2 separate regions of the Homo sapiens genome follow, and region 2 is linked to region 1. The links come from fine-mapping of genetic effects on gene expression. A gene starts in region 1. The other region holds a variant in brackets. All regions are shown on one strand. Distances are from middle to middle. Region 1 holds the start of ADGRA2 (adhesion G protein-coupled receptor A2). Region 2 overlaps ADGRA2 (adhesion G protein-coupled receptor A2).

Region 1 (5,368 bases):
TACAGGCCTGAGCCACCGCACCCGGCCTCAGCTCTGAATTCTTATGCAGCTGGGACTCACGCAGACGCTACCGACTGTTCCGCAGAGCAAGCATTTTTCTCCTCCAGAACTAAGTGAGCTGGGGAATGCCCAGGCCTGCCTGGACCCTCAAACCCCAGCGGACAGTCAGAGAGAGCTGCCCTGAACAGCCACAGGTGCCTTCCCTGGCCACAGCCTTACCCTGAGCAGCAGGGAGGCGGCAGCGAGCAGACACACCGCCTCCACCCTTAAGGCACACACATGCACACACACACCCGGGCCGGGGAAAATGCAGGCCGGGCGGCCAGCGTCAGAGGCTGACCAGTTGTGTCCTGTCAGGAAGCGGGCAGCCTCTGAACTCACCCAACCAGAGGCGTTACTGTATTGTTCTGGACACAATCGAAAAGACTGGGCCAGCCCCGACTGCGGGCAAGGGGCGGTGGAGAAACGGTTGCCACTGGGGTCAGGAGGACAGGGAAAGGGAAGCGGCTCTTAGGCTGGATTTGGGACAGGAAAGGAAGCGGCGGCCGCGGGGGCCCGACCCTCAAATCCACGGCGTGCGTGGAGCTGCGAGCACGTGGTCGGCGCAGGAAATCTCTGCGGTGGGGAGGGGTCGCCAATGCTCGCGCGGCTGCTGGGACTTGCGACCCCCTTGTAGGAGGCTTGGGGTCGGGCTGCGGCGCTGCAGCGCTCGCTGCCAGCAAAGCAAAGGCGTACTGAGGCCCTGACTAAGAGGGAAGTCGCGGAAGGAGGCCCGGGTGGGCTGCGGTGAGGGAACCCCGCTTCCCCAGCCGCGTTTCTTTCTTCGCAATCTTTGCGCGAAGTCAATGGAGAAACAGCCAAAGCTCGAGTTACTTCCAGGAGAGGCAAAGGAGAGGCAAGGACGCGGGACCCAGCACAGAGCTCACTGCACAAACGGCGCCGTGGGAGAGGGGCCTCTAGAGGGATGGGGACGCCAGGGTCTCCTGCAGCCCAGGAGCGCCGGTATTCCAAGGGCCGACTTTTCTGAGCCCAGCCTCCCCTTGCCCTAAGGAGACCGGCTGGAAGCGGCGCTGGCAGGCCAGGGGGCAAGGATGGGATGACCCCAATTGAAGGGACAAGGCCAGCCAGGTAAATCCGGAGACTCCTCCAGCCCAGTCCGGGACGCGACCGTAGTGGTTAGGACCACAGCCCCCTCCTGGGCCACGAGCGTCGATCTTTCCTGAGCATTCCCCGCTCTCACCCTTCTCAGGTCCCCAAAGTCCGCAACCCTAGTCCAGGCTGGAAATCCGGGGCGTGGGTGCCCTGCAGGCGTGCTCTCCACTTCACCTGTGCAGGTGAGTGGGCGCCTGCGGTGCCTTTCTCTGGGGTGCGCCTGTCCCCCGCAGCCCCTTCCCGCCTCCACGCTCCTGGAGCCCCAGTCTCTCCCCTGCTCCTCCAATCTTCCCCTCTGGGGGCCTGAACCCAGGCCTGTCCAGAAATCTCTGAAGTGGGGGGATAGCCCCCTTCCCCCTGCTCCCACCCCTCCCGTCTCGCCTCCCTTCGTCCCCAGTCCCGGCTCGGACGGAACTGGCCTGGTAGGGTACTCACAGGGTAACGGTGCCGTTAGGCAGAAGGCCGGGCTCGGGAGGCTCCGGGAGGTCCCCGCCGCTGCACACCACCCTCCGCCGAGCCGGGCCAGGGACGCCGCCGCTCAGCCCCTTGGGCCGCTCCCCCGAGCACTTGCAGCTGCGGATGGATAGCGGGCAGCCGGGCGCGCCCCGAGCCTCGGGCGCCAGGAGCAGCAGGAGCCACGGCAGCAGCGGCAGCAGCAGGCGCGCGGGCGCCCCCCGCATCCTGCGTCCCCCGGCGCCCATCAACCCATCGCCCCGCGGGGACCCACAGCGCTGGGGCCGGGCTGCGCGCCGGCCGGAGGGACCCAGGCGTGCGGGAGGAGTGCTCAGCGGGGGCCCGGGGCTCCCGAGGGCGTGGAGGGGGGCCCTGGGCGGAGGCGAGCCCCGGGGTCCCCGCCGCCGCGCCCCGGGGGCATGTCCTGCGAGCGCCCCGGCGGGGAGGACGTCGGCGCGGCTGTCAGCGCAGCGCGGGCAGCTCCCAGCTGCGCGGCCGGAGTCTCAGCGCCCGGCCCTCGGGACACTGGAGGCCCGGCCCCTCCGCGTCGCCTGCTCGCTGGGCGCTGGGCTGGGACCTAGCGGATCGCGCCGGGCTCCTGCTGCCGCCGCCGCCGCCGCTCCGTGCCATGGATGGAGGCAGCTCCGCGCCGCGCCGCTCCCGCCGCCGGTCCCCGCCCGCCCGGGCCTTCCGCGGGGCCCTAGCGCCGACCGACACGCGGCCAGGCCTAGACCCTCTGCCGAGTGGGGGCGGGCCAGCTGGTTCGAGGACCCTGCGTCCCCGCGCCCGCCCTGCACCAACACTCCTCTCCCGCTTGTCCCCGCGCCCCGGGCCAGGACCCTTCCTTTCCGCAACCCATCTCAGACCTCTGAGCCGACCACCACCACCTTCCACAAAATTTCCCTCGTCCGTGCCGGTGCAGCTTGCGTCTCCAGGCTGCTGGGGCCCTCCTGGACCCGCGGGCTTGGACAGAGACGTCTGGGGCGCCCTGTTTTGGGTTGAACTTGGTGGAAGGCTCCGAGGTTTCCTTTGGCCCCTGACACGATGATCAGTCTGGAAGTCGGCTCTCACTCTCCTTCCAGCTCCGGTGGAGGCAGCCGCAGGAGGATGGCAGCCGAGACAAGGAGGCAGCAGACCCTCCTCCGCTGCGGTGACCTCGCTCAGCGGGGGGTGCATGTCATTCGGCCAAGGAGAGGTCAAAGGCCAAGGCAGACAAGGCTAGAGGCTAGACTGGGCCTCCTACATTTTCCACAACGCTGTGTGTGTGTGTGTGTGTGTGTGTGTGTGTGTTTCGGGGACAGTGAGTGGGACAAGGGAAAAGTAGATGAGAAGGAGCAGGGCTTTGCAGCAGGGTGTGGAAAGAGCACTGCGCAGTGAGTCTGGAGACCCCTATTCCAGACTCGGCTCTGCCTCTCATTACTGTCTGACCTTGGACACAGCCCCTAGCTTGCTGGGGTAGCAGATCTCTGGGGTTGAAATGGGGCTCTGCCTGCTCCCCAGTTTATAGAGTGGCATTAGATGCCCAGTAAATCGTGGCATTAGAATAAGAGAGTGTGGTGGGGGGGAGGGGCACATGGTTTCCAAAGGCAGAGGACTGGTGGTGGCAGGGGTGACCTTGACAACTAGTGGTGGGTATAAAGCTGCCTGCAGGCCGGGCGCGGTGGCTGACACCTGTAATCCCAGCACTTTTCGAGGCCGAGGCGGGCGGATCACTTGAGGTGAGGAGTTTGAGATCCACCTGGCCAAAATGATGAAACCCTGTCTGTACTAAATATACAAAAATTATCCGGGCGTCGTGGTGGGCGCCTGTAATCCCAGCTACTTGGGAGGCTGAGGCACGAGAATTGCTTGAACCCAGGAGGCGGAGGTTGCAGTGAGCTGAGAGCGTGCCACTGCACTGCAGCCTGGTGACAAAGTGAGACTCCGTCTCAATAAATAAATAAATTAATTAAAAAAAAAACAGCCTGCAGTACACCGGAACCAGGGCTGGGGACAGGCAGTAAGAAGTGCAGCCCAGGGGTCTGCTTCCTCTGTTTCCCCACAGAAGCTCACCTTTCTGTTGCTTAATAGAGCTGCCGGGATGGGGCAGGACTCCCGTTCCCCCTCCTTCACTCTACCACCCAAGCGGTCCCCAAGGTGAATGCCACATTCTTTAGTGAGCTTAGCCCTGCTGATGTGCGGTGGTGCCTTTTCTAGGGCCCCTGTGCCTGTCAGCCAAGTCTACCCTGACTATGCAGGGAATGGCTTTCTTCTCTTGCCCGTTGGCGTTGGCGGCAGGCAGGGGCCTAGATGTTGGCTTCTTCACTTTCCCTCCCTGGCTCCACAGATCTCCCCCAGTTGCAGGCTCTCTGGTTCCTTGAACTTCCAAAGATAAATAAATAGTGATTGCAAATGGAGGAAGGGAGAAGGGGAATGGACTCCCCCAGCAGGAGCCCTCACAGGCGGTGGCCCAGGCTGCATTCCTCAGGAAAGAGCTGACAGCAGAGCCACAGCCCATAGGCAGGGCTGTGCAGCCCTCCTGCTCACAGGCAAGGAAGACTCTGAGATCTCTGGCCTGGGTCATATAGCTTTTCTGTGATTTCCTTTGGCTAAATGAAGACACTCAAAGTCTAAAGAAGAATTCTACTGGAACACCCACTCCTGGAGGCTGAACAGAGGCCAAAGGACATTTAATGAGGCGAGGCTTCCCCACCACTAGGAATGAAATGTCTGATGGAGACATCTACAAAACACTGGACTGTCCTGAGGGTCACCACATTTGACTTCTTACCCACCCAGGGAGGTGATGAAGTGGAGGTTACTTTCTTATTTTGCAAGTATGGATGAAGAAACTGAGTCACTGAGACTAGAGTCCAAGGGTAGGAACTTACTTTCTGATTCCTTTTTTTGTGTATGTGTGAGACAAGGTCTCTCTCTGTCACCCAGGCTGGAGTGCAGTGGCAGGAACACGGCAGCCTCGATCTCCTGGGTTCAATCCTCCCACCTCCGCCTCCCAAGTAGCTGGAACTACAGGTTTGTTATTGCATGCAACTAATTTTTTTTAATGTTTTGTAGAGATGGGGATCTCGCCATGTTGCCCAGGCTGGTCTCAAACTCCTGGACTCCAGCAATCTGCCTGACTTGGCCTCCCAAAGTGCTGGGATTACAGGTGTGAGCCACCATGCCTGGCCATGAGCATGTTTGTCTGTTTGTTTGTTTGTTTGTTTGTGATGGAGTCTAGCTCTGTCACCCATGCTGGAGTGCAGTGGCACAATCTCAGCTCACTGCAACCTCTACCTCCTGGGTTCAAGTGATTCTCCTGTCACAGCCTCCCAAGTAGCTGGGATTACAGGCGCCTGCCACCATGCCTGGCTAATTTTTGTATTTTTAGGAGAGACAGGGTTTCACCATATTGGCCAGGCTGGTCTCAAACTCCTGACCTCAGGTGATCCACTCGCCTTGGCCTCCCAAAGTTCTGGGATTATAGGAGTGAGCCACCGCAACCTGCCATGAGCATGTTTTAATCCTTTTTTCTTCTTATTTCTAGTATACCGTGCCCGGCCATGGTTCCTTTTTAAGTGCTTTCTTCTCTGAGCCACAGGGAGACTTTCCCCTGGGAAGCTTCCTGCAGACCTCTCCTCAGAGGTGCAGTGAGGAGTGAATGAATTGCCCACATCAAAATCTTTTTGTTTTGAGGTTTGTTTGAGATAGGAGAATGACTCGAATTTAGTTCCAGACCTCAAAAAATCTGCTAGGGAGCCTGACCAATTAAACACACCTTGAT
Region 2 (5,368 bases), 25 kb before region 1:
AAATACAAAAATTAGCTGGGCGTGGTGGCGCATGCCTGTAATCCCAGCTATTCAGGAAGCAGAGGCAGGAGAATCACTTGAACCCAGGAGGCGGAGATTGCAGTGAGCTGAGACCATGCCATTGCACTCCAGCTTGGGCAGCAAGAGTGAAACTCCATCTCGAAAAAAAAAAATTGCATCTTAAAGGATATCATCAAGAAAGTGAAAGAGAACCACAGAATGAGAGAAAATATTTGCAAATCAGATCTGATAAGGGATGTCTATCTAGAATATATACAGGACTCTTACAACTCAATAGCAGAAAGACAAATAACCCAGTTGAAAAAAATGGGCAAAGGATCTGAATAGACATTTTATCCAAGAAGACACACAAATGGCCAATAAGCCCATACAAAGATGCTCAACATCACCAGCAGTAAGGGAAATGCAAATCAAAGCCACTTGACACCTACTAAGACAGCTGTAATAAAAAAGAGAGACTCCAGCAAGTGTTGATGACGATGTGGAGAACTGGAACCCTTACACATTACTGGTGGGAATGTAAAATGGTGCAGACACTTTGGAAAACAGTTTCACAGTTCGGGTTACCATATGACCCAGAAATTCCACTCCTAGGTATATATCCAAGAGAAATACAGATACATCCACACAAGAACCCATAGCTGAATGTTCACAGCAGCATTGTGCATAGTAGCAAAAAGTAGAAACTGGCCACGTGTGGTAGCTCAAGCCTGTAATCCCAACACTTTGGGAGGCTGAAGTAGGAGGCTCACTTGAGACCAGGAGTTCAAGACCAGCCTGAGCAACACAGTGAGACCCCTATCTCTACCAAAAAAGAAAATTGGCCAGGCATGGTGGTGCGTGCCTGTAAGTCCCAGCTATTCAGGAGGCTGAGACAGGAGAATTGCTTGAGCCCAGGAAGTCAAGGCTGCAGTGAGCCGTGATCATGCCACTGCACTCTAGCACTCTAGCCTGGCGCCAGAGTGAGACCCTGTCTGTCAAAAAAAAAAAAAAAAAAAGGTTGGGCATGGTGGTTCACACCTGTAATCCCAGCACTCTGGGAGGCCAAGGCAGGCAGATCACAAGGTCAGGAGTTCGAGACCAGCCTGACCAACATGGTGAAACCCCGTCACTACTTAAAAATACAAAAATTAGCCGGGTGTGGTAGTGCGCGCCTGTAATCCCAGGTACTCAGGAGGCTGAGGCAGGAGAATCGCTTGAACTCGGGAGGAGGAGGTTGTAGCAAGCCGAGATCGCACCACTGCACTCCAGACTGGGCAACAGAGTGAGACTCCATCTCAAAAAAAAAAAAAAAAAGTAGTATCCACCCAAATATTCAAGAGATGAAGGGATAAACAAAATGTGGTGTAGTCATACAATGGAATATTATCTGGCCATTAAAAGGAATGAAGTGCTGATACGTGCTATAACATGGGTGAACCCTGAAAGTACCATGCTGAAAGAATCGAGTTATGAAAGATTACCTATTGCATGATTTCATTTATATAAAATGTCCAGAACAGGCAGATTTATAGATCTATAGACAGAAAGCAGATTAGTGGTTGCTTGGGCCTGGGGAAGAGGGGGTGGAGGAATGAGGAGTGACTGTTAATGATTCAAGGTTTCTTTTGCGGATGATGAAAATGTTCTAAAATTAGATTATGGTGATTACACAATTCTGTAAAATATACTAGAAACCATTGGATTGCACACTTTTTTTTAAACGGGTGAACTTTTATGGCACGTAAATTATATCTCACTAGAGCCGTTAAAGAGCATGTGAGTTAAAGAGCATGTGACTGTGTGTGTGTGTGTGTGTGTGTGTACCCACATACAGGCAGGGTGGGGCCGCAGAGAGTCAGCTCCCTCTGGCCCCACAGACCTCCCTGCTTGTGGGTTTGAAAACCAAATTATAGGTTCGGAGGCCACAAAGCAGCCTTCCCTGGGCCTACAAGACTTCCAGGGTTCACTAGAAAGTGGGGGCTGGCTGAGAAGTGGGCCAGGACACCCTGCAGGTATAGAAGTGTCTAGGGGAGGAAGGGAGAGGTTCTAGTCCCATCCTCCAGGTGCCTCTTGTCTCTGATAACAATCCACAGGTTATTTATTGAGCATGTACCCCATGCCAGGCATGGGGGCTACCATGGCAAACAAGAGGGCTGTCCCTGAACACATCAGCCTTCCCTCCTGGGCCTCAGTGGTGCAGGAGTCCAGGCAGCTTGTCTGCGGCATTCCTCCCCAGTGTTGTTGGGGACGGGGAGGGGAGGAGGGACAGAGCCCAGCAGCCTCACCCTCGGCCCCACCCACAGACTAATGGAAGCCACCTGGCGTTGGGCAAGCCTCACTCCACCCCCAGGCCGCCACTTTCGTTCGTTCCCATGAGCATCTGCTTCTAATGAGCGCCTCAGCACCCCTGCATACCAGCCCCCGGGGCTCATTAATCTCATTAAGTAATGACAAATCATCCCGGGGCTGACCGGGCTCCCCTTCCCAGACTCTTTCCTTTAGCCGTGCACGAGCCTCTGGGGGCCAGTGTCCACACAGACCCATGTGCTGGCAGGCACGCAGTCTCGCTCCCTTGGCCTCTCTTGGGGCTGTCTGCCCTGGCCGGCTTGGTCCCTGGTCTAGAGGCATCTTACTGTGACTGACACCCTCAGAGCCCCCCAGAAAAGTCTTCCTGTGGCCTAGTCCCCATTGCATGTGCTTGGCAGGGGATCCCGGGGAATGAATCACCAGCTGTACTTGGAGCATGTATATTTCAGCTACACAGTTGCCTGCCCAAGGCTGGGAACTGTAGGCAAATCTATGCAAATGACAGGCGGCCAGGGTAACATCTAGCAACTGGGAAATCTTCAGAGGGGAAGGGAACTGCCTGCCATATACTGGAAGCCTGTGCTGCCATGCGTTCTGTGTAAGGAACT[C/A]TTCCTCTGTTCCTGTAACAATTCCTCATAGCCCTATTTTCCAGGTGAGTAACCCAGGGCTGGGAGAGGCACTGGAAGGTAAAAGAAGGAGGGATGATTCCACTCCAGGCTGCTTTTCACACCAAATGGAGTCCAGCGCTCTTTCATCAGCTTCTCTCTGCCCCAAAAGTCTTTCCTTTGGGCAAGAAACAGTCTTGGCCATGCTGGAGGGTGGTGGGAGAGAGAGAGGGCACAGACGTGCAAGGTGGGTCTTCTGTACACTCCCTGGGCGGCCCAGGAGGTGTTTCTGCAGGGCTCTGTTTCAGGTCTTCCTGTCTATCCTATCTGGCTGATAAAGGTGTGTGCCCCCCCATCTCCACCCCTACCCCCAACCTCTCTGGATGATCATCTCTGACACATTCCCACTGGGCATCCGCTCTGTGGCCCCTTCCTTGCCCATCCTGCCCATGCTGGCCTCAGGACCCTGCATTGCAAAACAGATACCACGCAGATCTACTCCCAGCTCCTGTACAACAAGGCGACCCCCTCACGTACACACAGCCCATTTGCAAAGGCTCAAGGGGCTCTCAGCCAAGGAGGCCATGCAAACACATTCTGCAACAGCCTGGAGCTTCCGTTTCAGTTAACAGACTGGGCCTCAACCCTCCCACTGGACGTGCTGCTCATAGACTGTGGGATGTTAAGTTGCCATGGCCTCAGCCGCCCAAGCCTAGACATCTGAGTTTGACAGGACAGAGGGATCAGTGTTTCCTGAGCACCAACTACATGCCAGCCCATGGAGTCTTATTCCTGATGAATAGGCCCTCAGTCTAGGGGTCATCTTGCCCACTGGCACCTAACCCTGGATGAGCATGAGAATTGCCTGCATAGCATGTAAAAAATTCCCAGGCCCCATGGGACAGATGAATTAGAATCTCCAGGAGGGAGGCCCAGCATCTGTATTACCCAAGGGCCCTCTCCTTCTGGGGGGATAGTGGTTGTGATGGTTAGTTTTGTGTCAGCTTGACAAAGGCTATAGTACCCAGTGGTTTAATCACACATGAATCTAGATGTCGCTGTGCAGGTATTTTGTAGATGTGGTTGACATCTGCCATTAGCTGACCTCATGTGAAGGAGATGCTCCTGTATGATGTGGGTGGGCCTCATCCAATCAGCTGAAGGCCTTAAAAGCAGACACTGAGGCTTCCTAGAGAAGAAATTCTGCCCCAAGACTGCAGCGTCTGCTCCTGTCTGACTTCTCAGACTGCTGGCCTGCCCTACAGATTTGGGGTCTGCCAGCCCCCACAATCATGTCAATTCCTTTTTTAAAAAATGTCTTCATGGCCAGACGTGGTGGCTCATGCCTGTAATCCCAGCACTTTGGGAGGCTGAGGTGGGCAGATCACTTGAGGTCAGGAGTTCGAGACCAGCCTGGCCAACATGCTGAAACCCCATCTCTACTAAAAATACAAAAATTAGCCAGGTGTGGTGGCACGTACCTGTAATCCCAGCTATTCAGGAGTCTGAGGCAGGAGAATCACTTGAACCTGGGAGGTGGAGGTTGCAGTGAGCCAAGATTGTGCCACTGCACTCCAGACTGGGTGACAGAGTGAGACTCTGTCTCAAAAAAGAAAAAAGAAAAAGGCCGGGTGCGATGGCTCATGCCTGTAATCCCAGCACTTTGGAAGGCCAAGGAGGGCGGATCACAAGGTGAAGAGATCGAGACCATCCTCATCCTGGGCAACATGAAACACCGTCTCTACTAAAAATACAAAAATTAGCTGGGCATGGTGGCGTGTGCCTGTAATCCCAGTTACTTGGGAAGCTGAGGCAGGAGAATCGCTTAAAACCCAGGAGGCAGAGGTTGCACTGGAGATCGTGCCACTGCACTTTAGCCTGGTGACAGAGCGAGACTCCATCTCAAATAATAATAATAATAGTAAGTATTTGCATATATAAATACAGCAGTGATCAGTGACCACGTTGGAGACCCTGAGCTCCTCCAGCCCTGAACAAGCACCATCCCTGTCCTGCTGCCCACGGCACACCCTTCTGCCCAGATGGCCCCTCCTCTGGAAAGCCTGGCCCTGTCACTGGGTCCTGTGATTATCTTCTCCTTATGGGCGCTGTGGGTGTCCCACACACATCCAAGGATCATAGAATTTTAGATCCATAATGCACCTCCCAAATCACCCCATCTACCCTAGCTCTTCTGACAATGAGGAATCGAAGGCCACCCCAGTAGCCACCCCGGCATCACATCCTACCTGTCTCCTGCCACCTCCCCCTGGCTCGCTTTGCCAGCTCACACTGCCCTTCTATTTCTCAGACTCCCCAGGCATTCCCTGAACCCAGGGGCCTTGGCAATGCCTGCTCTCTTCATCCTTCCTGAGAGCTCCAGGCTTCCTTCCTCGTCCCTTCAGGTCTCAGGCCCAGGCATGTCATCAGCAAGGCCTTCCTGACCTCACTAC

The links. PIP is the estimated chance that this variant, and not a neighbour inherited with it, causes the effect.
Region 2: its variant is fine-mapped to the expression of ADGRA2 in whole blood (INTERVAL, PIP 0.99).

The regions. Positions count from the first base shown.
Region 1 is chr8:37,793,754-37,799,121 of GRCh38, reverse strand. ADGRA2 (adhesion G protein-coupled receptor A2) reads right to left here and starts at 2,239. Exons shown (of 19, transcript NM_032777.10): 1 at 1,588-2,239. The coding sequence starts at 1,853. RefSeq lists silencers at 1,625-1,714, 1,995-2,164, 2,175-2,414 and enhancers at 2,678-3,243, 3,244-3,809.
Region 2 is chr8:37,818,842-37,824,209 of GRCh38, reverse strand. The region is part of intron 2 of ADGRA2 (adhesion G protein-coupled receptor A2); the gene reads right to left. Among named protein-coding and RNA genes, the nearest start is that of ADGRA2, 25 kb to the right of the region's middle. RefSeq lists an enhancer at 1,830-2,403. The variant C/A (reference allele first, on the strand shown) is at 2,919.